Homo sapiens: one gene and its partners. The protein of the gene in region 6 interacts with the protein of the main gene of each other region in a pairwise test. Each region holds a gene or a part of one and is shown on either strand. Other genes may lie near its edges.

What was found.
Region 1: the proteins of WWP2 (region 6) and LGALS9B interact in binary tests that used the Homo sapiens proteins (3 or more experiments, as listed by UniProt).
Region 2: the proteins of WWP2 (region 6) and LITAF interact in binary tests that used the Homo sapiens proteins (3 or more experiments, as listed by UniProt).
Region 3: the proteins of WWP2 (region 6) and WIPF1 interact in binary tests that used the Homo sapiens proteins (3 or more experiments, as listed by UniProt).
Region 4: the proteins of WWP2 (region 6) and ARRDC1 interact in binary tests that used the Homo sapiens proteins (3 or more experiments, as listed by UniProt).
Region 5: the proteins of WWP2 (region 6) and PDLIM7 interact in binary tests that used the Homo sapiens proteins (3 or more experiments, as listed by UniProt).
Region 7: the proteins of WWP2 (region 6) and ENTREP1 interact in binary tests that used the Homo sapiens proteins (3 or more experiments, as listed by UniProt).

The regions. Positions count from the first base shown.
Region 1 is NC_000017.11:20,457,540-20,461,039, forward strand, and holds part of LGALS9B (galectin-9B), read right to left. Parts: intron 2,905-3,500; coding exon 2,813-2,904; intron 846-2,812; coding exon 644-845; intron 1-643.
Region 2 is NC_000016.10:11,548,920-11,552,419, forward strand, and holds part of LITAF (lipopolysaccharide-induced tumor necrosis factor-alpha factor), read right to left. Parts: intron 2,886-3,500; coding exon of another isoform or gene 2,804-2,885; exon of another isoform or gene 2,788-2,803; intron 827-2,787; coding exon 718-826; 3' UTR 1-717.
Region 3 is NC_000002.12:174,570,305-174,573,804, forward strand, and holds part of WIPF1 (WAS/WASL-interacting protein family member 1), read right to left. Parts: intron 2,143-3,500; coding exon 1,372-2,142; coding exon of another isoform or gene 1,289-1,371; exon of another isoform or gene 865-1,288; intron 1-864. UniProt on the Homo sapiens protein: Plays a role in the reorganization of the actin cytoskeleton. Contributes with NCK1 and GRB2 in the recruitment and activation of WASL.
Region 4 is NC_000009.12:137,608,686-137,612,185, forward strand, and holds part of ARRDC1 (arrestin domain-containing protein 1), read left to right. Parts: intron 1-3,500. UniProt on the Homo sapiens protein: Functions as an adapter recruiting ubiquitin-protein ligases to their specific substrates. Through an ubiquitination-dependent mechanism plays for instance a role in the incorporation of SLC11A2 into extracellular vesicles.
Region 5 is NC_000005.10:177,487,605-177,491,104, forward strand, and holds part of PDLIM7 (PDZ and LIM domain protein 7), read right to left. Parts: coding exon 3,406-3,500; intron 3,303-3,405; coding exon 3,266-3,302; intron 2,990-3,265; coding exon of another isoform or gene 2,893-2,989; exon of another isoform or gene 2,642-2,892; intron 2,428-2,641; exon of another isoform or gene 2,229-2,427; coding exon 2,167-2,228; intron 2,024-2,166; coding exon 1,789-2,023; intron 645-1,788; coding exon 464-644; intron 1-463. UniProt on the Homo sapiens protein: May function as a scaffold on which the coordinated assembly of proteins can occur. May play a role as an adapter that, via its PDZ domain, localizes LIM-binding proteins to actin filaments of both skeletal muscle and nonmuscle tissues.
Region 6 is NC_000016.10:69,936,832-69,940,331, reverse strand, and holds part of WWP2 (NEDD4-like E3 ubiquitin-protein ligase WWP2), read right to left. Parts: intron 3,215-3,500; coding exon 3,094-3,214; intron 2,785-3,093; coding exon 2,680-2,784; intron 1,306-2,679; coding exon 1,209-1,305; intron 992-1,208; coding exon 919-991; intron 492-918; coding exon 392-491; 3' UTR 1-391. UniProt on the Homo sapiens protein: E3 ubiquitin-protein ligase which accepts ubiquitin from an E2 ubiquitin-conjugating enzyme in the form of a thioester and then directly transfers the ubiquitin to targeted substrates.
Region 7 is NC_000009.12:69,373,715-69,377,214, reverse strand, and holds part of ENTREP1 (endosomal transmembrane epsin interactor 1), read right to left. Parts: intron 1,480-3,500; coding exon 1,351-1,479; intron 1-1,350. UniProt on the Homo sapiens protein: Functions as an activator of the E3 ubiquitin protein ligase ITCH in the ubiquitination of the CXCL12-activated CXCR4 receptor. Thereby, triggers CXCR4 endocytosis and desensitization, negatively regulating the CXCL12/CXCR4 signaling pathway.

The DNA of each region.
Region 1 (3,500 bases), on a different chromosome or scaffold from region 6:
CGGCTTCCAGCTCCATCCATGTTCCTGTAAAGGACATGATCTCATTCCTTTTTAGGACTGCAGGGGTATTATTTAAATATGCATAAAATGCTCACGGGGAGCAGAGGAGAGGTGACATCGGGTTGCATACTGAATGGATGGGAACATCCTTATCTCAGATAAGCATATTCAGACTGAGTTACCCACCGGCTTCTCAAGCCCAGAGACCTACTGTGCTTGCAAAGGTAATTTGCAATGTGCTTACAGAACTATAACCGTAATAGACTCTGGATAAAGGCTGGAACAATGTCGCTGAAAAATAAATGTTACCAGGGACCTGGAGAGGAGGTATGGTGATAGCAGAGGAATGGAATGAGCTTGGAATTCAAAGACACACAACACCTAACAGCAACGTGATGACTCCTCTAGTTCTTATTTTCAGAGTAAAAGAAGCAGGAGGTGCACCTGTAGATTCAGGTGAAGGTGCGTAAGGAGACTACACAGCCATGGGTAACACCCTTACAAGGAAATGGTCATGTTATCTGTATGGTGGTGTCACTCTGGCTGAATGTCAATTAAAGTGGTTACTTAAAAGGCCATTCACATTCACCTGATAGGGCTGGGAGTCCCGTGGGCGAGAGGTGGGGAGGGGATTCCTGCTTACCTTGAAATCTGAGCTCTGCACCAGGAAGCAGAGGTCAAAGGGCATCCCCTTCTGGAAGGGCATGTGCATCTTCCTCTCCTCGGGCCCCCATCTTCCTTTCTGCCTCGTGTTGCACACCACATACCCTCCGTCTTCAAACCGAGGGTTGAAGTGGAAGGCAATGTCGTTTCCACTGAAGCCCGTCTGAAAGTCCACAGCAAACCTAGGCCCAGGAAAAGCAAATAGTCTTCTGTGGCATGGATTATTGCCAGTGACAGGCACAGGAGGGCCTCGGTGCCTCTGCCCTGTGTTTGTCTGGGATCTTGCATACAACCTGCGTGGCAGAGACTGCTTGGTTGGCATCGTTTTTGTTTCTCTAATTTGGATCCAATGTGTTTTTGTGCGATTATTGCATTTTGCCTTTACAGCACGATTTTCTAAACATAAGTAGAAAATGGCTAAGGGAAAGTGCTGGCATTAGCAAACAAGAAGCATAGGTCCTGGAAAGTGATTACCAGTTGGTAACAAAGATGGAAGTTGTTAAGCACACCTAGAAGAGAGAGGCTTCTGTGCCAGTGGACACTTGTTGGAGGCCAGCACATGCCTGATTAAGTGCGAAAGAAGAGAACAAATGTAAAGAGCATGTGAAATCGGGGCCGGGCGCAGTGCCTCACGCCTGTAATCACAGCACTTTGGGACGCCAAGGTGGGTGGATCACTTGAGCCCAGGAGTTGAAGACCAGCCTGAGCAACAGAGCGAGATCTCATCTCTACTTAAAAAACAAAAAGATATATATATATATTTAATTAGCTAGACATCATGATGCATGTCTATAGTCCCAGCTGCTCTGGGGGATGAGATGGGAGGATCCCTTGAGCCCAGGAAGTCGAGGCTGCAGTGAGCTATGATCGTACCACTGCACTCCAGCCTGGGTGAAAGAAAAAAGTCCCTGTCTCTAAAGAAAAAAATAAATTAATTAAATGAATAAATGGAGAAGATTGCATTTGAAATATCACTGCATGTATTTTTTTCCTTTGGAGACCTTCAGCTTCATTCCTGTGGCCCTTTGGAAATTCCTGCCCCAAGGAAGGGAGAGACAGAAAGCTCCTGAGAGGAGAGGGCCCTCTGAGGTAGGATCTGTCTCTGTGCAACAGGATGGGAGTGGGAAGCCCTCCTGGTGCTGGGAGGTGGGGGAAACAGAGGGAGAGGGAAAGAGGAAGGGGTGGAAGATCAGAGGCATGGTTCTGATTCCCCCGGTTGGAGGATTCAGGGGGATCAGGGCCTCCCTGCCCTTGGCATCTCCTGGGGGCACTGCAGGCTCTCAGAGAAGTCCGACAGCAGGATAGCAATGGCGGAGGAGGTCATCAAGAATCTAGGTGGCGGAGCTGAGGTTGAGCTGGCATCTACGAGGCCCAGAGGGTCTTAAGAGAGGTCCACTGGGACTGAGGCAGAGAGGCTTCCGAGAGAGAGCCATGAGTCCAGAGGCTCTTCTGTGGGCCCCGCAGACTTCAGCAGGCAGCCACCCGTGGTCCCTCACTAAACCAGGAGAGAGCTGCACACCTCTGTGCCACCCAGTCAGGATGCCTCGGCAGGGGTCAGCCAGGCCTGCGTGAGGGTCGGGGGCCCTCCCAGCCACTGACAAGCCACGTGAGCTCCTCTCTGTTCCCAGACAGCCCACCTTGGGAGGGAGGAAGGGGTGGGAAACAGCCCTGATACAATGTTAGTATTTTGAATGGACTTAGTAGTTTCCAGAAAAGGCCTTGAAACCGAAAGAGACCAAATTACTTCGGATGTCAATTTTCAGTATTTTCATGTCAGCAGAAGGAGAGCTTCAGAGTGGATGAAAGCAGTTATGGGAAACGGAGGAAGTTTGATTTTTGCAACTCTCAGTCACAGTGTGCAAGGTTCAGCCCAGAACATAATCATCCAACTCTGACCATCCCACTCCTTCCTTAGACCTTCAGCTCCCAGGGCCCCATTCATCCTGGAGTCCAGGTTAATGGCATCCCTGGGTGCAGGTTGTGCCTGTGGAGTGCTGTCCTGTGGCATGGGTTAAGGATGCATTGGGTCTCCCCTGCGCCAGGCACGTGAGCTTGGATGTTGTTGTTTGAACTAACCGAGGCTCACAGGCACAGTGGCTTTACTAAGGGACGAGGCTGGAGTGAAACGTTTCCATCCATATACACACACCTGGTTCCACTGGAGCTGAGAACGGCCCCATTGACAGTGATCTGAAATCCGTCCTGGAGACCCCCTTGGATAGTCCCAGAAAAGGGGACGGCCTGCAGGGAGAAGACATGGGGCCTCAGTCAGGTGGCCGGCCTCCTGTTTGCTCCCCTTCGGGGCTAGTCAGTGGCTGGCCTGGGTGTGACCGCACCATGCGAGGGGCTAGGGTGCAGCTGTGACCAGGACAGAAGGAGTCTCAGCCCCACGGGTCTTAGGGTCCTGTGTGGAGGCAGACACAAATCCAATTAGTTACTCAGACAGTCTAAGCTTGTGATAAGGAGAATCCTGGCCCTGAGAGGACGCGACAGGGAGCTGAGCTTGTGTGAGAGTCTGAGAGGCAGCGGAGGCCACACCAGGAACGCTCCAGGCGGAAGGCCTTCCTTCCAGGCAGGGAAGTAGCAGGCAGACGCCCTGGGCTGGTAAGGAACTAGGTAGCAATGGGGCTGCTGGACCCCATGCCAAGCTCCCAGCAAAGTGCCCAGCGCCCTGGCTGGGGACTCAGGAGGCCCAAGGGAACAAAGGGACCCATCAAGGGTCTGCAGGTTCCACCGAGAGGGTCACCAGAGAGTGTCAAGAAGAAGGCATGCACCTCTCCCCACCACCACCATATAACAATGGCCACCATGACCTTTGCCCTCCTGACCACCTTCAG
Region 2 (3,500 bases), about 58 Mb from region 6:
GGGGCACTGAAGATCTGGCACAGAGAAACAAGGGGAGACAGGGCAGTGATAAGATCCAGCCCTATTTTTCTAGCATGCATTTACGACCTTGTGGATATGTCTGTACTGGGTGTTAATAGCCCCCTCCTTGTATTTAAAAAAAAAATTAAGAAATTAAAGTGAATCTGTGTGCTAATGAAGTCTGCAGTTACAGAATCTCAAAGCCAAGCCTGTAAAGTCTGTAAGGCAAGATCTTTGTCATCAGGGACGGGAAGAGACGGATAAGATAATGGTAGGCACTAAAGGCTGGTTCAGCCGAGCTCTGGGCAGAACAGCCTCAAAAATAAGGCAACTGTGGCTTCTCAGTTTGAGACTGCCACCAGAAAGGCCCATGGAAGCAGGAAAAAAGAGCCACTGATGGCAGATCACAGGAAGATATTCGGATAGGGCAATGATCACAGTTAGATGGCAGGACTCAGGGTCTCAGGGAGGCAGGAAACCGTGGAACTGACACTCAAGGGGAATGTCTTTGCAAGTCCTATGCACGACTCCAAGCAGCAATTTCTGGGGTTTGGAGATTTGTTAGTTTTGCGACGTATTCCCCCCAAAAGAAGACATGAAGGTGGGCCCCCTGGAGAGGTGAGACCACCAGGGCAGAACCTCCACCAGGCGTGAAGCTGGATGAGAGGTGGAAAGGACTTCCTGCGGCACCCGGCTCCCTCCACGTCTGGCTGAGTCCTACAAACGCTTGTAGGTGCCCAGGAGAGCTCTGCAGTTGGGACAGTAATGGTCCACGTCCTGCAGGGCATCCACGCAGAAGGGGATGAAGCAGCAGCCCGCTATGCACCTGGGAGGAGAGAGAGACACACGGAGCGCGTTACTGATCACAACAGGGTGAACACTGGCTGCCAAAACCATGTTCATGTCCTTCTTTGTAAAAAGGGTCTTTGCCAGTATAATTAGGAATTTTGAGATGGGATCATCTTGGATTATCCAGGCGGACCCCTAAAACCCAATGACCTTAGAAGAAGAGGAGAGGACACACAGAGATACAGAGAGGGCAGAAGGAAATGTGAAGACAGAGGCAGAAGCTGGAGTGATGAGGCCATAAGCCAAGGACACCTGGACCTACTAGAAGCTGGAGGAGGCAAAAAATGATTCTCCCTGAAGCCTTAGGAGGGAGCGTGGCCCTGCTGACATTTTAGTTTTTGGTTTTGTTTTGTTTTGTTTTTGAGATGGAGTCTCGCTCTGTCGCCCAGGGTTCAAGCAATTCTCCCTCCTCCTGGGTTCAAGCAATTCTCCTGCCTCAGCCTCCTGAGTAGCTGGGATTGCAGGCGCATGCCACCAGGCCCAGCTAATTTTTTTATTATTAGGAGAGTTGGGGTTTCACCGTGTTGGCCAGGCTGGTCTCAAACTCCTGACCTCAAGTGATCCACCCGCCTTGGCCTCCCCAAGTGCTGGGATTACAGGCGAGAGCCACCACACCCGGCCCCTGCTGACATTTTGATTTTGCACTTCTGGCCTCTAGAATTGTGAGAGTTAATATCTGTTGTTTTAAACACTAGGTGTGTTGTAATTTGTGATGACACCCCTAGGAAATTAACATGCCAGCCAATGCCAAGGCTCCTCCTACAGACAGAGCCCCTTTGAGTATTATTTTCAAATCTGGGGTCATTTGGGAGTCTTTCAAAGTCTTAGATGGGCTTGGTGAACTTTTTTTGCAAAGGGACAGATAGTAGATCTTTTAGTCTTTTTGTTGCTGTGTTTTGTTTGTTTTTGTAGAGATGGGGTCTTGCTATGTTGCACAGGCTGGTCTTGAACTGCTGGCCTCAAGTGATCCTTCCACCTCCGCCTCCCAAATTGCTGGGATTACAGGTGGAAGCCACCACACACCCGGCCACATACTTTCATCCTGATGAGCCATGGCGTCTCTGTTGCAACTGCTCAACTCTGCCCTTGGAATGAGAAGACAGCCACAGAGAATCCAAAAACCAACAGGCGTGGCTGTGTTCCCGTAAAACTTAAAACAGGCGCCTGGCTCCAGGGTCGTTTTGCCAACCCCCGTCTTACTGATCTCTTTTCCATATAGACAGGCTGCTTCTTACAGCAACCAAGTAGAGTTCCCCAAATAATGCCTCTTAACCTACATAATCCACCTTTGGCACACACAGGCAGGAACCTCAGACCGCCTGACAACCAATGTTTGCCAAAAATGGAGTTAAAACTCAACCCTTCACAGGAAGACGCTGGTTTACATAAAGCAGAATTTGGAAATATTCTGATGAGGAAATTATCTCATGAAAGAAATTTCCTCCTATTGCCTAAGCTTTCCAGAGCTCAAATAAGGGCAGTCAATCCATTCAGCAGGAATCCTAACCTATGGCTTACAGGTGCAGGCACGGCTCCAGGCAGCACACACACATATTTCATCCTCAGCAGGCCCTGAGGTGGGCGTTATTGCCCCGCACCCCCGTCTACAGATGGGGAAACTGAAGCACAGAGAGGTAAAGTCACTTGCCCATGGCCACACAGCTAGTGAGAGGCAGGATTTGAACCCACTCTACCATGTTTAAGGAAGGAACAAAGGGAGGGAAAGAAAGGTTGCCTCAATTTCTAAAGCCAGACTGGCAGAGGCCAATACTCAATGTAAGTTTCTATTCCTCTATAATCCCAGCACTTTGGGAGGTCAAGGCAGAAGGACTGCTTGAGTCCAGGAGTTCAAGACCAGCCTGGGCAACATAGTAAAACCCCTGCTTCCACACACACAAAAAAAAAATTTAAAAATTAGCTAGGTATGGTGGCACACACCTGTGGTCCCAGGTACTCAGGAGGCTGAGCTGGGCGGATTGCAGGAGCCCAGGAGATCAAAGCTGCGGAGAGCTACGATCGTACCACTGCACTCCTGCCTGGACAACAGAGCAAGACTCAGCCTCAAACAAAACAAAACAAGTTTCTATTCCATCTTTCCCTGATTCCAAAGATAAAAAATTTGTTTTAATACAAATATCCAGAGGCAATGGACTTTTTTTTTTTTTAAGCATTTTCTGCCCACAGAATGAAAACAACAGCAGAGTCCTGTGGGCAAGAGGGGGAATCAGGTGCCCAGAAAGCTGTTTTGTCTCCTTCCTTCCTTATTTAACACATGACCTCAAGGAAGTTAACTAAACTCTCTGGGACTCTGAGCCTCTTATTGAAGTTAGGAAGAGAAATATTGTTCCTTCTCAACCTCAAGTCACCAAAGGACAATGTGGAGGAACGTGCCGGTTGCATGAGGCTCCTGAAACTCACAAACACCGTTTCCTTCAAGGAAAAGAATGGAGCCCCTTGGGGTTTTCTGAGTGGCTCACGTGGCCAGGTATAAGGAAGCTACTTTTACCTGCTTGGTGGGAAACAAAAAATTGATTGTGTTTCCTCAGATTTTTCTCCCAGAACAGAAACTGTTATCTCTTTAAACATAATACCTTTGGTGCAGACATAAAATTTATATAATTTCCCTGCATGGGCAATGGGAAAAATACTTC
Region 3 (3,500 bases), on a different chromosome or scaffold from region 6:
GCATTTTAAAAAGACTGAAAGGACACATTAAAAGAATGTTATCAATGATTATTTCTGGATAGTGGTGGTAGAAGGATTAATTTTAATTTTCTTTATATTTTTCAGTATTTCTATAATAAACAAGTATGACTTACGTAATCAAAAGAAATAATAAATGTTATATGTCAATGCCTGTCATATTTTGGGGAAGATTTAATCTGCTGACTCATCCATTTGGTAGGGCCATGGCACAATGGTTTCAAGGTGTGGTTCTCACATTCTGCTGCACACTATAATCACCAGGGAGCTTTTAAATATCCTGATTCCCAGTCTGCACCCCAGACCAATTATGCCAGAGACTCCGGGAAGGGACCCAGGCATTGGTGGTTTTTAAAGCTCCGCAGATGATTCCAGTACGTGAGCAAGTTTAAAGAATGGTGATTATGAGGTTCCTGAGGTCACAGGGTCAAAGGTCTCTTATCTCTGCGTAAAGGAAAAAAATGCCCCATTTCCAGACATAATAAGGTCTGTACGATGAGATTCAATTTTAAAAGTGGGTGGTTCTACTGAGTTCATCCATAACCACTATAAAACGCATCAAGTGAGCATATTCTACTAAAAATGCCTATTATAATTCGGAGAGGGCAAACTCTAGGCAATCCTCACATTTCCTTTCATACTCTGAAAGTTTGTCCCTCAGATCAAGGTTTCTCAACTGTGGATGGGGGCATTGGAAGGGTCTCAGATGGGCTTCAGCAGGCTCTTCAAGCCATGTGACAGCAGGCAAATTTTGAGTTTATGCCTGAGTATTTTTGTAAAGATAGTCTATACCTTTATTTGATTCTCCAAGGGATTTATGTACCAGAGATTACAAAGAGCAAAATGGACTTTTTAAACATTAGTCTTTAATGAATAGGGAAATGGCCTCAAAGCCTGGCGAATGAAGAGAGAAGTACAGGAGAAGTTCATTAGCTCTTGAAGAACTTCCCCTCTTGTTGGAATAACAGAGCCCTCCTGCGGGAGGTGGGGACTTATTTTCCCAATTAAGACCGCCGAAATTCTCTCTAGGGAGGCAGGGTAGTGGACTGGCAAGTACACTTCAGAGATGGAAGATGAAAGTTCTTGCCTCTTCTTTATTAACTAGCTCGTGACCATTTAACTTTATTAGCTACTCAGTGTCCTCATCTCTAAAACACCAACAGAAATATTGGTCCCACTTTCCCCCGGGGTTTACACGAGGTCACGATCACACGTGTCGTGTGCCACTTAAAAGCACAAAGCAGTCTGAGTTTACTTATGCCTGCTTTTGTTAGACTATCTTGACTGACAGGATTATTGGTACATTTGGGCAGGCTGGGTTTTGGAAGCAACTCACTCCACGTCTTGTCATACCTGATCGGCCTGGCGGGTCCCTCACTGGAGGTGGGGGTCTCTCACTGGGCGGGGGAGGAAGAGGACCTGAACGTCCTGGCGAAGGTAACGGGGGCGTGGACGAACTGAGGGACAGATTCCGCTGTGGGAGTCTTGGGGTTTCGTCATTGCCGCTGGAACTTGGAGGCAGAGGAGGCGGCCCGGGCCTGCTGGGAGGTGGCGGCGGAGGTGGGGCCTGTGAGGAGGCCGAAGGCCGCGGAGTGGAAGGCACTGGAGGCTTGTTGTTCTGAGGAGGAGGAGGGGGAACCGCTTCCCTGTGGATGGAGGGCCTGTTGCCCACTGGAGGAGGTGGTGGAGGGGGTTTGTCATCCAAGGCCCTGCTGGGGGTAGGCGGCAGGGGAGGCCGGTTGGAGAAGGGCGAGGAGGAGCTCAAGGGGGACTGACGTATTGAGCCTCCTCCCAAAGCAGTGCCGCGGTTTCCAGGGAAAGGGGGAGGAGTGGGCCCGGGGCTGGGCTGCCTGGGGCCTCCGGGCACTGGTGGGGACCCCCGGTTGTGCGGACTTGATTGAATGGGTCTTGGAGTACTAGGTACTGGAGGAGGAATGCTATCAGGCTTTGAGCCCACGTCGGGCCTTGGGGGCGGCATTCGGTTCCTCTGAGGCTCTGGGGGACCACTTCTGTGGCCTGGAGAAGGCACAGGAAACCTCCCTGGGCCACTTGGGGGTGAAAAGGGTTTCGCAGATGTGGATCTTCCTCCCGGTGGCAACAATGGTGGTCGGCTTCCTCCAGAATCTGAAGAACAGGAAAACAAACATCAGTTAGGAAATCAGGAACCCTGAAGAAATCAGAGAGCTAGAGTCTGTTCCCAGTGACTGGAAGTCCCTTCCTCAGAGGGCTATAAAATACAGGAAACTATTATTTATATAAATTGGGTTTTGTTGGTCCTTCTTGGGAGCAGAAAATCGACCATAGCTCTATTTACCTGCGAGTCCCAACTTCTACAGCCTATGAGCTTTCAAAAGGATTCTGCAAATATCTCTTAGCATTATGTATAGGCAAGAGCCAGGATGAAGTGGGCGAGAGTTCTGGTGAGATGCCTATTCATTATGAGAGGACAAGAACAAGATGGCATTGGTAGAATCATGATTTTCATTTTTCCTCATCACCATCTCTGTCTCCCAGCCCTTGTACCTCTCAGTTTTGAAACTAAGTCAGCTGTCTTAGGTGAAAAAATTAATTATCCCAATGTAAATCTCCAAATGTGAGGGCTTATCTAGTCCCTATGAAGAGAAATGCCCCAAAAAAAGTGGAAAACTGTAAGGGGAAATTATAAGAAAAGAGTTATGACTGCAATAAGAAAAAACTAAGAAAGGAAAAAGAACCATCAGTAAAGTTTAATTGTAAGAGTTGACACCAGTGGATGGAATTCATCTACAAAGAAGCAGGCAACTACACAACTTTTTTTTGGTACCACGTCAACCTCTGCTTCAGTATTGGCAGGACAGAATAATCCCATAACTGCTCTGGTTCAACAAGGGAGAAACTAAAGGGGGAACCAAAGAGATGGAAAATTTCAAACCACCATCCCAGAATCTCTTGGAACTCAAGGTAATTCTGAAAAAAAAAAAAAAAATCTACCCATTTATGAGTTAATAAGTGTACCAAATAATTTTGAGCACTTGCTATGCGCCTGCCATTAATCTAGAGACTAGAGACAGAGGAGTAAACAGAATAGAAAAGATTCTGCATTCCTGTAGTTTACATTCTTGTGGGGGGAGATAAACAATAAACCAGGAAATAAATACTTTCAGATAATTATATGTACTAAAAAGACACTAAAATAGGCCGATGAGATCAAGAGTGCTTGGAGAGGCCAGGGTACATGGAGTGGCTGGGGACAGCTCTTCTGAGAATGTGACATGTGAGCTGAGGCCTGACAAGAAGGAGTCAGCCACGGAAAGATGAGGAAGACCAGCACTTTGGGCAGGGTTGGCCAGCAGGTGCAGAGGCCCTGAGGTGGGAAAGAGCTTCAAGTTCAAAAACGGGCCCATGTGCCCGGGGCACAGTGAGAATGGGAGAGATCCATGGGAAGTGGAGCCTGAGTGGCCAGCAGGGGTTAGTCACAAGGAGCCCTGCAGGACAGAAGGGGT
Region 4 (3,500 bases), on a different chromosome or scaffold from region 6:
CCCTGGGAAATTCACCCAGCCTGACCTGAAGCAGTTGCTGAGAGGCAGAGGAGCAGCTCCAGGTGTTTTGGCAGGGAAGCAGCTGGCAGCTGTGCGGGAGCCCCTTGCCTCCCGTGTTCTTACTGAGGAGTGTGTGGGGCAGCTCGGGACAGGTTTCACTTTGGACAGTGGTTGGAGGCTGCTTACTCTGGCAGAGTCATCTCAAAGAGCCTTGGTGTATGTGCAAAACGGGGCCATCTGCATGGGCGTTGGGAAGATCACAGAACCTGGACCCTTAGGATGACCCAAGGGTCAGTTGCATACTGTTTGTTTTTGTGGAGTCAATGTCCCATGACGGTTTTCGCGATGCTTTGCTAGTAGGAGCAGTGGCGTGTGAGGCTCCCGGTTAAATACCATGAGATTCTAAGCGGAATTCTGGGTCTCCTGGTATGCACAGGTAAAATTACAGTAGACCTGTCCCACTCTTTGCCAGAACCTCGTACTTGTCTGCAGTTTGACTGGAATAAGGGGTGTTTGTGTTCCACCTCCCTCCAACGTGTGTTGAGACATTTATTTATTTATTTATTTATTTACGTTGCTCTTGTTACCCAGGCTGGAGTGCAGTGGTGCAATCTCAGCTGCTCACCGCAACCTCTGCCTCCCTGGTTCAAGTGATTCTTCTGCCTCAGACTCCCGAGTAGCTGGGACTACAGGCACGCGCCACCAGGCCTGGCTAATTTTGTATTTTTAGTAGAGACGGGGTTTCTCCGTGTTGGTCAGGCGGGCCTGGAACTCCGAACCTCAGGTGATCCGCCCGCCTCAGCCTCTTAAAGTGCTGGGATTACAGGCGTGAGCCACTGTGCCTGGCCCCAAGACATTGATTTTATTTGAGATGAGGTCTCACTTTGTCACCCAGACTGGAGTGCAGTGGTACAATCTTGGCTCACTGCAACTCCTTCCTCCGGGGCTCCCACCACAGCCTCCTGAGTGACTGGGACCAGGGGCACGCGCCACCACACCCAGCTAATCTTTGGTAGTTTTGGTAGAGATGGGGTTTCACCGTGTTACCTAGGCTGCTGTCACACTTCTGGCCTCAAGCAATCCGCTCGCCTTGGCCCCCCAAAGTGTTGGGATTACAGGCGTGAGCCACTGCGCCCAGCTGTGTCGAGACATTTAATATTTGTCAATCTGATGGATTGAAATGGTAGGTCATTTGGGCTTTCCCTGCAAGCTCCACCTTCCGGGTTCACGCCATTCTCCTGCCTCAGCCTCCTGAGTAGCTGGGACTACAGGCGCCCGCCACCACACCCGGCTAATTTTTTGTATTTTTAGTAGAGACGGGGGTTTCACCGTGTCAGCCAGGATGATCTCGATCTCCTGACCTCGTGATCTGCCCGCCTCGGCCTCCCACAGTGCTGGGATTACAGGCTGAGCCACTGCGCCCGGCCGGGTTTTCTGTAATTTCTAGTGAGGTTGGACATCTGTTCCAGTTACCTACTGCTACGTAAAAGTCGCGGTCACCTCAAGTCAGACACCATTCTTAAAACAGTTAACACAACCATTTTATTATATCTCACAGCGTTGTGGGTTAGGAATCTGGACAGTGAGGGCAGGGTTAATCTTCAGTTCTGTGCCACCAGCTGGGATCACTTGAGGGTGCTTGGCTGGCATACGGGTTAGTCTGGGGACCACTGCCCCCTTTCCGGCATCCTCTGTGGGTTCCAGCATTTTTCTTTTTTTTTTCTTTTTGAGATGAAGTCTCGCTCTGTCACCCAGGCTAAAGTGCATTTGTGCGATCTCAGCTCACTGCAACCTCTGCCTCCTGGGTTTAAGTGATCCTCATGCCTCAGCCTCCCAAGTAGCTGGGATTACAGGCGTGTGCCACCATGCCTGGCTAATTTTTGTATTTTTTTTTTGAGATGGAGTTTCACTCTTGTTGCTCAGGCTGGAGTGCAGTGGCGCGATCTCGGCTCACTGCAACCTCCGCCTCCCAGGTTCAAGCGATTCTCCTGCCTCAGCCTCCCTGGTAGCTGGGATTACAGGCATGTGCCACCATGCCCAGCTAATTTCGTATTTCTAGTAGAGATGGGGTTTCTCCATGTCGGTCAGGCTGGTCTGGAACTCCTGACCTCAGGTGATCTGCCTGCCTTGGCCTCCCGAAGTGCTGGGATTACAGGCATGAGCCACCGTGCCCGGCCTTTTTTGTATTTTTAGTAGAGATGGGGTTTCACCATGTCAGCCAGGCTGGTCTTGAACTCCTGACCTCAAGTGATCCACCCGCCTTGGCCTCCCACAGTGCTGGGATTACAGGTGTGAGCCACTGCACCCAGCTGGGTCCCAGCATTTGCGGGATTCAAGGTGGGGATGTGCAGTCTGTCAGGAGTGTTAAAAGCACGGCAGCATTTCCAGTCCCCAGGCCTCCTCTCCTTGCTTCAGCCACGCCCACCCTCCTCTGTGCCTGCTCATGCCCATGTGCTTCTGTTGGGCTGTCTGCTGGTCCACAGGAGGATTACTGGTGTTCCGGATTTTCAGCATGAACACAGTATGGGGTCTGGCCCGAGGAGGGCCTGGCTAACAGAGCATGGATTCAAAATCAGAGCAGAGCTGGGTACCGTGGCTCATGCCTGTAATCCCAACACTTTGGGAGGCTGAGGCAGGTGGATTGCTTGAGCTTAGGAGTTTGAGACCAGCCTGGACAGCATGGCAAAACCCTGTCTCTATAAGAAAAACAAAAAACAAAAAACAAAACCCAGGTGTGGTGGCACGTGCCTGTAGTCCTAGCTACTTGCGGGGCTGAGATGGGTGGATCGCTTGAACACAGGAGGTTAAGGCTGCAGTGAGCCGAGATCGTGCCACTGCACACTAGCCTGGGCGGCGGGAGTGAGACCGTGTCTCAAAAACAACAACAACAACAACAACAACAAAAAAACAAAAAATGGACCGAGGTTGGGGTGGCAAGGCTGGGCTGGAATGGAGGCTGAGGACAGGCCCTGGCAGCGCCCGGGGGTAGAGGGCGTGCAGCAGGAAGCAAGGGCCACCCTCAGGGATGGGGGACTGGGCCTGGCAGCTGCCGAGGGGTAGGCAGGATGCATGTGGAGAGCCACGTGGGGCTGCGGCTGAGCCAAGGATTGTGAGAGGAATCCTGCTGCTCTGGGTGGCAGGCAGAAGGCCTGGGCCACAGGTGGGGCCTGCTGGGGAGACCACAGGTGAGGCAGGTATGGCTGACCCTGGGCGCTCGGCACACCGGTACTCCTCCTGCCTGGCTGCTCCCTCAGCAGGTGTCAGAGTCTGAGTCACCTTTTCCTCACGTGACCCCCACCAGGACCAGGCAGGGAGGTGGCCATCTTTGGCCCTGACTCAGCCCTGCAGGGAGAAGAGGGGCTGGAGGTGCAGGTGGCCTGCCACTGTCTCCCCCAACCCCTGCCCACCTGGGTCTTGTGCTGTGTGTACTTCTGCTGCGTCTGTCCTCCCTTGTGACCAGCTTCTGCTGGACCTGATTGTCCAGCCATGATCTTCTGATC
Region 5 (3,500 bases), on a different chromosome or scaffold from region 6:
AAGCCACCATTATTTTGAGTTTCCCACTGCTCGTGGTCAAGGTAAACCTCACTAATATGAACATCACCACACAGAGCTCTCTGGCTACTCCTGGCAGCCCTGGCTCTGGATCCAGAAATGAGGAGGACGCATGAGACAGAGCAGCTTCAGCGTGTCAAGTTGGCCGTTCTGTCATTTCACCAGGGCAGGGAGAGCCCAAAGTGGGAGTCAGGAGGGCCCAGGGCTTCTCCTGGCTTGGTCCTCCTGCTCTTTGCAGCCTTGGGCGGTTTCTGAGCAGGAACATGGTCATTTGTTAAGAGCATCCTGACTAATGCAGGGTGAGGCCAGTACAGCAGCCCATTTATTACGCTGGTAAGGACCCGGAGGGCTCACTCGGGGAGAGACCTGGACTGTGGGTTTCCCAGCAGCCCTCGTTCCCACTGACAGGCTTGGGACCACCTCCCCGCCAGCCAGCCCTACTCACGCCTGTAATCTTCTTCTTGCACTTGGCACAGCTGGGTGCATAGCGCACGTCATAGCATGGTGGGCAGAAGATGGCGCCCTTCTCCTCAAAGAAGCCACCCTCTTCCAGGACCTTCCCACACTGGCTACACACAAACTCCTCCGGGTGGTACGCGTGGCCCAGCGCCACCAGGTAGCGGCCCCTGCAGGGAGGCGAGAGCGGTCAGAGGGAGCACACGCAGAGAGGTGGGGGTCTTGGCCCCCTTCAGGTTGACTGACCACCCACCAGGAGGCCTTGGGAGGGACAGTTCATTCTCCCCATTTTCCACATAGGATAGAAGACAGGCTTGGGAAGTGACCGTGGCAGCCGTGAAGCTTACAGAGCCAGTCCGCCACACTGAACTGCTGGTGACAGGAGAGGCAGCTTTAGAGCAGGGAGGACCCCGGGAGGAAGGGCTGACGACTGGAGCCTCATAAAAGCTGAGCCGCCCCTGGGCAAACCCTGGAGCTGCCCTGTCCTGCTGGCCTGCCTGTTCTACCTGGCAAGAGCTGATAGAGTCGGCTGGGCACAGTGGCTCACACCTGTAGTCCCAGCACTTTGGGAGGCCAAGGCAGGCCTGAGATCACCTGAGGTGAGGAGTTTGAGACCAGCCTGGCCAACATGGTAAAACCCCGTCTCTACTAAAAATACAAAATTAGCCAGGCATGGTGGCGGGTGCCTGTAATCCCAGCTACTCAGGAGGCTGAGGCAGGAGAATCTCTTGAACCCAGGAGGCAGAGGTTGCAGTGAGCCGAGATCGCGCCACTGCACGCCAACGTGGGCAACACAGTGAGACTCTGTTTCAAAAAAAAAAAAAAAAGAGCTGACAGAGATGAGAGCAGGCCAGGCCTGCGAATTAGGAAGGCTCTAGAATCCGGCACGCTGATGCTGGGGGGTGTTTGATGCTGCTTGGCCCCACGGGGCAGTGCACAGAGGGAGTGGCTCCAGGCCTGTATGCTCTGAGAGCAGAGGGAGACAGAGAGCAGGAGGGAGGGGCAGACGCGCTGGGAGGGGGCAGGCCCCTCTTTGCCCAGAGAGCAGCAAAGGTAGGGGTGCAGCTTCAGCCTATGGTTGGCCCTTCGGCTATTTCGCCACGGCAGATGCTGCTAGCAGTTGTTGTGGGTGGGCTGGGGTAGGTAGCGTGGGATTAAGAATGGGAGGACCCAGCCCAGGTCCCTACTCCTACTCCAGCTGAGAACTGAATCCTTATTCCCCCCAGTCGCAGCTGAGGCAAGACAGGTGGGCAGACAGGTGGGGCTGGGCTGCAGGATGGGAAAGCCAGGGTCGGACAGGAACAGGCCACCCACCGGATGACCTTGTGGCACTGGTGACACACGGGAGTCTTGCCGTTGTTGCTGCCCCCTCCTGGCACCCCTCCGGCAGCTGCCTGCACAATGGAGGTGCGGCTCTGCAGCGGCGTGGGCGTGGCCGGCTGGCTGTGCCGGGTCAGCACTGTGCTCGTTTTGTCCGGGGCATAGCGCTCGGCAAACGCAGGGTCCACAGCCCAGGGCGGGCGGCTGGTAGGGCTGGGGGCGGTAGGGCCTGCCGGGGAAAGTGACTCTAAAGGGGTGCCCAGGGACCCCAAAGGACGGGGGTGGAGCCCCAGGCAGCTGAGAGAAGCCCACCACCCCCATGCCCCTGGAGGCTGCCCACCCTTGCCCAGGCCCGAGCCCACTCCCTCTCACCAGGCCAGGGCTCCTGGGGTGTAGATGAGGCTGGGGCTGGGGCTTCTGTCCTGGGCACCTGGCTGCAAGATCTGCCATTCAAGGCCCTGCATGGCTGAGCTTCCTGACATGGCCCCACCCCCCAACCTGGGTCCTGCTGGCCCCACGGGAGATGACTGGGGGCGTGGAAACTGCCGAGTTGGATTCCAGGTCCCACTGGGGTAGGGATGGGAAGGGCAGCTTCTCCTAGCAATGTCCAGTTAGCTGGTGTGCGGTCTCTAGCTGGGAGACGAGGCAGGGCTCCCGCTTCTGAGGCAGCTCCTGGGGTTCCCCTCATGCCAGGAAGCCATCTGTGATGGCAGGGCAGGGCCCCTTTGCCAGGTACCCCCTCCCACTGAAAACGAGGACGGCAGGGCCCAAACAGTCCGAACCACGAAACACCCCCACACCCCAAATGCAAACCAGGTCCACAAAGATAGAAGACAGGCAGAGCAAGCAGGGCTGAGAATGTTTATTCCATGCCCAAGGCAGCACAGACCTGGCAGACAGCAGTACCACAGGGCAAAGAGGGAAGGCAGTGTCAGATGAACCCAGGTGGGCGGCCAGGGCCAGGCCAGCAGGAGGCTCAGGCCAGGGGCACGAAAGGGGGGGTGAGGTAGGCAGAAGCTGGAGGCACTAAGGGGGTGCCCTGGGCAGGAGGAACAGAAAGAGGGAGGCAGAGAGGGCAGCCGGCTGGAGAGGGCCGGGCTACGACTGCACGTTGAGCACGTGGGCAGAGCGCTGGTGGTGCCAGTCCCGGAGGCGGGTGTAGCGTGGGCTCTGCAGCTCCAGGACATACTTTTCCCTGAGGGGCAGAGAGAGAGGGAGGAAGAAGTGGAAGGAAGGAGAGATGGAAGGGAGGCAGGGAGGGAGGAGGGAAGGAAGGAGGGAGGGAAGAAATGAAAGAAGGAAGGAAGGAGGAAGGGAAGGAAGGAAGGAAGGAAGGAAGGAAGGAAGGAAGGAAGGAAGGAAGGAAGGGAGAATTGAGAGCCCCAGCTGGGAGCCTCAGGAGTAGACACAGGGCAGTAGCTGGAATGGAAGAGGCAGGAGGTGGGAGAGGGGCTGGTGCCCGTCCCTGTACCTTGATTTCTTCAGGTGCTCCTCATCCGGGTCTTGCACTGAGAGGGCAGAGGCAGGCATTGACCAAAAAAGACACAGGGTCAGGGATCACGCCTGGGCTGGGGGCGAGGAAAGTACCCCCTGCCCTGGGCTGGCACTTACTGAACTCGGTGCCTGTGAGGTGGGCAAGGATGCGGAAGGAACGCGACTGGCCTGTCCCCGGCCGCGGCCGCCAGTCCTCTGTGTTCTCCATCAGC
Region 6 (3,500 bases):
GGCCAGTCTCCTCGCCGAACTAGTCCAGGAGGTCTCCGGCCTCTGCGGCAGCCCCTGGGGATGCAACACCTTCCCTTGCACACTCACATACACCCAGGGTGGGGTCTAGAGGACAGGGGAGAGTTTTGCAGAGAGGGTCAGCCCTCTGGAACTTTGCAAAGGTGGGGCCAAAGGCAACTAGGGGGCTTTATTCCAGACTGCCATCCGCGGGTCGGGGGAACTGCAGGGCCTCCTGGGATCAGGCTTTTCTGCCAGCAGCGAGATGACAGTGTGGTCCCACACAGGGCCACATCCACGGGGGCCTCCCAAGGGCTGCGGGGCCAGTGGCCTCTCAGGCAGGGAGGACTCAGGACTACATGTGCGCTGGGGGGCGTGGGAGGGGCGGCCTCGGTTACTCCTGTCCAAAGCCCTCGGTCTCCTCAATGGCATACAGCAGCTTCTCTCTCAGCTGTTCGTAGCTCTTGTAGGGTGGAAGATCCAGACGGTTGAAGCTATTGAGAGTGGGGAAGCACGACAGTCAGCCCTAGGAGGCCAGGGCTCTGATAGCCCCACCATGCCTGCCTGCAGCAGGGCCACAGGGCTTGCACCACACTGGCTAGGGCTCAGGGGCTGCCAGTCAGGCCTTCACATTGCAGGTGCCTGGACCATGGGGTGTTAAGGGAGGGGCCAGGACAGCTGGAAATTGGTTGCGGGGGACACTTGGGGCAGTAGCTCTTGGACTACTGGAACAGAAGTGCTTCATATGTAAAACCCGGTAGATCAGATGCCCATCACAGCCCCATCTCTCCAACCCAACACCCCAGGGCCACGCAAAAGCTGCCAGACTCGAGGCTATGAAGCTGCTACACCCACTGGGCTGTCCCAGGAGCTCATCGGGTCTGAGGCCCCCCGACCTCCCACTAAAACCAGCAGGCTCACCAGGTGTGGCTTCTGGGCAGCCAGGTTTCCTTGCCAACTTTGTCAATGCAAAACTTCTGTGGTCCGTTGCTACCTGTGATCCAAGGTAAAACACGCCGACGTCAGCAGAGACGTCCCTTCCCAAAGCAGGATCCTCCGGCTCCACCCACAGATGGGCTCGGCCCCAGGATGCAGAGGCCACAGCTCTTCTCCATCCCACTGACGTGCTTCCAGGAAGAGACTAGGTTTCCCCCTCCCTCTGAGCTGTCCGCACTGCCAGCCAGGACGCCAGAGGGCGAGAGAAAACATACCGATGAGTTCGGCAAATCCCCCGACGGGCAGGCGGCAGGTACCGGTGACAAACTGCAGCAGCCGGATCCTCTTCTCGTTGTCCATCTCCTTCACCACCTGGAAGTCCGCAAGTCAAGGCACAGTCAGGCAACCCACGGGGCCCAGTACTTTGCCCGAACGTGGAGCTCTCTAGCTCAGCGGGGCCCCTCTTTGGGGCTGAGAACACAAAGCCAGGTTGGCCAGGGGATGACAGCCTCCAACCTGAGAAACCCCAGAAGTGCTTTTGCTAAGAGGCTGTGTGTGCATGAGATTCCCACCAGTCCATGGGACATCTCTGGGTCTCAGGGACACCTCAGGCTGGGTATTCTCTTCCCATCCACGTTCTGCTTTTAGAGATGACTAAATATGGGAGTGACTGCTTAATGGGTATAAGGTTTTTGGGGAGATGAAATGTTCCAGAATTAGATAGTGGTGCCAGGTGCACAACACTGTGAATGTACTGGAAGCCACTGCTCTGTCGCCCAGGCTGGAGTGCAGTGGCACGGTCCAGCTCACTGCAGAGCAGTGGCACGGTCCAGCTCACTGCAGTCTCCACCTCCCAGGTTCAAGTGATTCTCATGCATCAGCTTCCCGAGTAGCTGGGATTACAGGTGTCCACCACCATGCCTGGCTAATTTTTTATATTGTTAGTAGAAAGAGGGTTTCACTATTTTGGCCAGGCTGGTCTTGAACTCCTGACCTCAAGTGATCTGCCCACCTCGGCCTGGGTGGGAAGCCAAGGAACCCAAAGTGGAAAGCCACTGAATTGTGTATCTTAAAAAACTTAAATGGGTTGGGCACAGTGGCTCACGCCTGTAATCCCAGCACTTTGGGAGGGTGAGATGGAAGGACTGCTTGAGCCCAGGAGTTCAGGACCAGGCTGGGCACCATAGCAAGACCCTGTCTCTATTGAAAAAAAAAAAATTAATAGTTAATTGTATGTTATACAAATTTCACCTCCACAAAAAATTTGTATACGTACATATGCACACAGACATGTACTAAGAATACCTGTAATCGCTATTTTTTTTTGTATGCTGTATTTCATAACGACAACAACAAAACCCATACGTATAAAAGAATCAACACATTAATTATACATAGGATGACAGCTCTTTCTGGTTTCTGGAGCCAAGCCCCTGCCTTCCTGTCCCATCTGGCTGGCAGGGGACCTCTCAACCAGTGGCAGCTGCTGTCTGCCTGCAGGTCTGTCCCTGCACACCAGCTGGCCCAAGGCTGACCACTGACGACCTCCTGTCACATCCACTGGCCACCACTCAGCTGGAACTGTCCCCGTTCATCCCAAGGCTGGTCTATCGTCTCCTTTTGCAAGGTGTGGGAGGCAAGGACAGGGCCAAAGCTGAAGGTCCTTGCGCGTGAGGCCTCCTCAGGACCCGTTTCCTTTGGTTGATGGCCCAAATGTCCCTGCCAAGGCCTGGGCCCGGGACCCACCTGCCAGAACCACTGGATCTGCTTGCTGTTCTTGGTGTAGTGCCGGTAGATGGTGCTCTTCTGCCAGTCGCTCATGTCTATCTCCTGCATGCCGCACAGCATCAGCTGGGGAGAGGCGGCAGTCAGCATCCCCGGCAGGTCCCTCCCCGCGCATCGTCCACTCGCTAGCACTTGACATTACCCCAAACATATTCAACTAGCTATTTTTGGTGTCAGCGTTAATAATATGGGTAATGTAAGTCCCTGCTTTCTTGAAACAAGTGTCTGGGGAAGGGTGGGTCCCAAATCAAACCCATCTGCCCTGCCGAAGTGGGAGTTTTACGCTGAGTGTCTGTGGGTACACAGTGAGCGTATCACAGAGCAGGATCGCCCCAGAGGCAGGGGCTCAGGGTCCCAGCAACCTCAGACACTCACCTCCAGCTCTTTCTCGTCAAAGTAGCGCAGCCACTCCAGCGGGGCCACCTCGTTGAAGCCATCCAGGAAGGCTTTGGTCTGCTCTTCCACGCCTCGGGTGAAACGCCAGTCAGTCAGCAGCCTGAGACCAAAGAGCAGCCATGGGTGGAGTCTGAGACCCACTGCTCAGGGGTGGCTCCCGGCCAGGCCGCGTGGCCGTTACCGCGCAGGACCACCAGATCAGCAGAGCCCACTTCGCACACCCAGACCCAGCCTGCTGGAGGACCTAGAGTGAGGCCCTGAAAACCTCACAGTGACCTGCAGACACCGGAGTCTTTGAAATCATCCTCACCACCACCTCCTCCTGCTCCTGCCCCCAGCGCCGACTGAACCTCAGACGTATGGAAGCGTGGAGATAAAGACTAAAG
Region 7 (3,500 bases), on a different chromosome or scaffold from region 6:
AAGTGCCCAAATAAATGCTGGCTATTATTATGACCCTCATGCAATAATGTGTACTTCTTAATTCCAAAAACTTATCTTAGAAGCTTTCTGTCACAGAACAACGTGGTATGATAGTATTTCTTTTTGCAAGCATCAGAATACTGTCGAGAAACATTCCTTCCAGGAGAGCAGTGAGCTTCTCTTCTGAGGCTGATTTCCCCAGGGATAGCAATTCCCAGCCTCCTCCCTCCCACAGCCTCCCACCAGCACAGCACACTGCTTAATTTGTGGCCACTAATTCTATTTCAAGAGCAATTGGCTGTGCTGCCCCATGCACACGACGAGGACACTGAAGGAGCTGGCCCAGCCAGAGTGTAAATAGGACTTCTCTCCACTAAACACACATCTCAAAATAGCAAAGGCCATTCCAAACGCTTCTGTTGGTACAGTCCTGGCTCCTTGAGTGGGGCTTTCCCCAAGCTAAGTCCTGGCTCAGAAAGTTTGGGGGTGACTCAGCTACCAAAAATGCAGAAGCCATGGAAAGCAGGCCATTTCCACATCCCACACAACCCAGAGCTGGTAGCTTGGAACAGTTCTCTCTTTCCTTGGAGATTCTTCCTCCCCACCAAAATGAAACCCAAAACAAATATCTAAAGAAAACCGGCAGAAGTGGACTCTCAAAAAGCCATACCTCAGGGTTCACCAGTTGATTTTGTCACTCACTGAGCTAATGTTCCTTAAGTCAGGGCACAATTTTTATCCAATTCCCTGATGAAGGCTAATTTTGTATTTCTCTTCAACTGGGATCATCTGTTTGTTTAATACCTTTGGCTTATTATAGTTGTTGCTTATTAAACAAGAGCTAAGGTGCTTCAATTCCCCCATATTTTCTGGCCAATCTCTCTCCTTAGTCTACGTGTTGCAGACTGGTAGTACTCAGTGGCCCATATGACCCATGTAAGCAAACAAATGAGCATCAGAACAATGACACACGAGTGTGCGACTTAAAGGTTTTGCTAAAAGCTACACCGTATATGTGTGTGTAGGTATACATATGTACGTATGCATATGTTTATATGTGGAAATATGTGTGTATGTGTATACATATACATATATATAGTCAGGCTCCTTTCCATTTTTTACTATCTTACAGTTCTTCAACACAAAGAAAGCTGTCCATACATAATTTAACACACACAATAATCTGTGGTTCTTTCTGCATTCAATTCTGTCTCTGGGGTCACTCACATGCGCTTTCAGCAGCTTAATTGTTTGAGGGAGGTAATAGAACAGGAATATTTCAAGTAAGTTTGCCTTCTTTGGGGGCTCCGTGGTGTATTTACCGTGCGGGTGGGAATCTGTTTGAGGTACCTTAAGTAGAAGGTGAACAGCACTACAGGGCTGAACCGGAAAGAGTTTCAAGGCATTTTCTTTGTCTGTGCACTTGGCTGGTTGAAATTCTTCACAACAGAAGCAAATCTTGCCTTCACCTAAGTCCACCTTAACGGAGGAAAGGTAAAAAAAAATACTTTAATTATTAAGAAAAAATACCCTGGCTCTACCATGGAGCACCAATCCTGTAGAATGAGATGATGGCAGGGTTCTGTGTCAGGCAATGCCTCTATCAGTCAGGATGGGCTAGGGTATAGCATGGTAACAACCAAAACCTAAATTTCAGTGGCTTTCACAAAACAAAGGGAATTTTAATATTCCTCCTTTCTCCTTTAAAGTCTCCAGCTGAGAACTTCCTGTTTTCATACTAATCCTGTTTAGTACTAACAAACAAGCAGCTAAATGAGATGAAGTATCAGCCTCCATTCTGCTCGTGTACATGAGTCCCACTCTTCCCCAAAAGGAACCAAACTCACTTTTTTTTCCCCAACACAATGCACTCTGATTTTCATTTTTTGCACTTGGTGCAAGCCTCAAGATCTTAACCTGAAAGCTCTATCTCTCTCAGACAATACTAGGCATCATCTTACAAAATATTCCCTTCCCAAACAAGTCCATTCTTGATACAAAGCGTTTAGTTAAGTGGGAAACCAGGCCTATGTGGGCTGCACACACCATATAACATAGATGTCCAGCTCTTCAGAAACTTCAGCTACCTGGCACCTCTGGAGTGAGCCAGTCTGGATGGCAAAATTTTCCAGATGGGTGAAATTCAGTCCCTTTAAACAACCCTATTTGAAAGTTTACTCATTATACAAATGATCACGAATACCAATTAATTTTCCCACTGGATACAAAGAAACCTCAGGCACTGTGCAAAATGATTCCAGGCAACTGTGCACTGTGCGTTCCTTCTCCCCTATTCCTGATCCTTGCAGAATCTAATACCTTCACCTCCATTCTTAATCCCATCTCTGCCCAATATTTCTAAAAACTTATTCTCACTTCTCATCAGTCACTTTAGCCTATCCACAAACAAATTTGTAGAAGTCTCCCTGATCCTAAATAATGAACATCCACCCTGCATTCTTGGTGCTACTGCCTGAAGAGGTCAGATCTTTGTCTTCCCCCTGTCACCTTTCAATAGCAGCATTCTTAATCCTGCCTGTACATTTGAATTTTCTGGAGAGCTTTTTAAAAAATGATGATGCCATCTTAAGCACTCAGGGAACTACAAATTAGAGTGACAGCAAGCTCTCACTCTGGCTTCATCAGACTGGCACAACTTTAAAAAGAGAGAAACTCTCTTTGCTGGTGGAGACGTGGAGAGCCACTGGTAGAAATTCACCAGTCACTGGTGAGTTTAAGCCCTTTAATGAAGGAACTGACTATCCATTTTAAATTAAAAATACTCACTTCCCCAACCACTTTGGAAAACTCTTTAGCACCGCATCATCCAGCAGCTCCGTGCCTAGGTATTCACTCAAGAGAAATGAAAACTGCCTCCCCAAAACAATAATGCTCACAGCAGCTTTGTTCATAATACCCCCAAACTGGAAACAACCTAACTGTCCATCAACAAGAGAACAAAAAAACAAAAAAATTCTGGTATTTTTATAAAATGAAATAGTGTCCTGAAAAAAGGAACAAACAACAGATACAATATAAAAATATGGATGAATTTCAACAACATTACACTGGGCAAAATAAGTCAGACACAAAAACTTTCAAACCGTGTGACTCCATCTACATGAAGTTCAAGGACATGCAAAACTAACCCATGGTGAAAGAAACAGGAACAGTGGTTGCCTATGAGAGAGTAGAGACTGCCTGAAAAGAGACACTAAAGAACTTTTTAGGGTGACAGAAATATTGTTTGGAGTACAACAAACAATATTTTGTTTGGAGTATAGAAATTGTTTGGAGTATAACATGAGTGTATACATTTGTCAAAATGAATGTATACATTGGTCAAAACTTATAATGAACTGCACACTTAAGATTTGTGTTTTTCACTGTAACTTCTACCCCAATTTAAAAGCGATGGATAGAACAATAAAATGGTTGAATTTGTAATAATAAATGAGATAAGCAGGAGAAAAGATACTGCTGAGAACAATTCCTTGTCC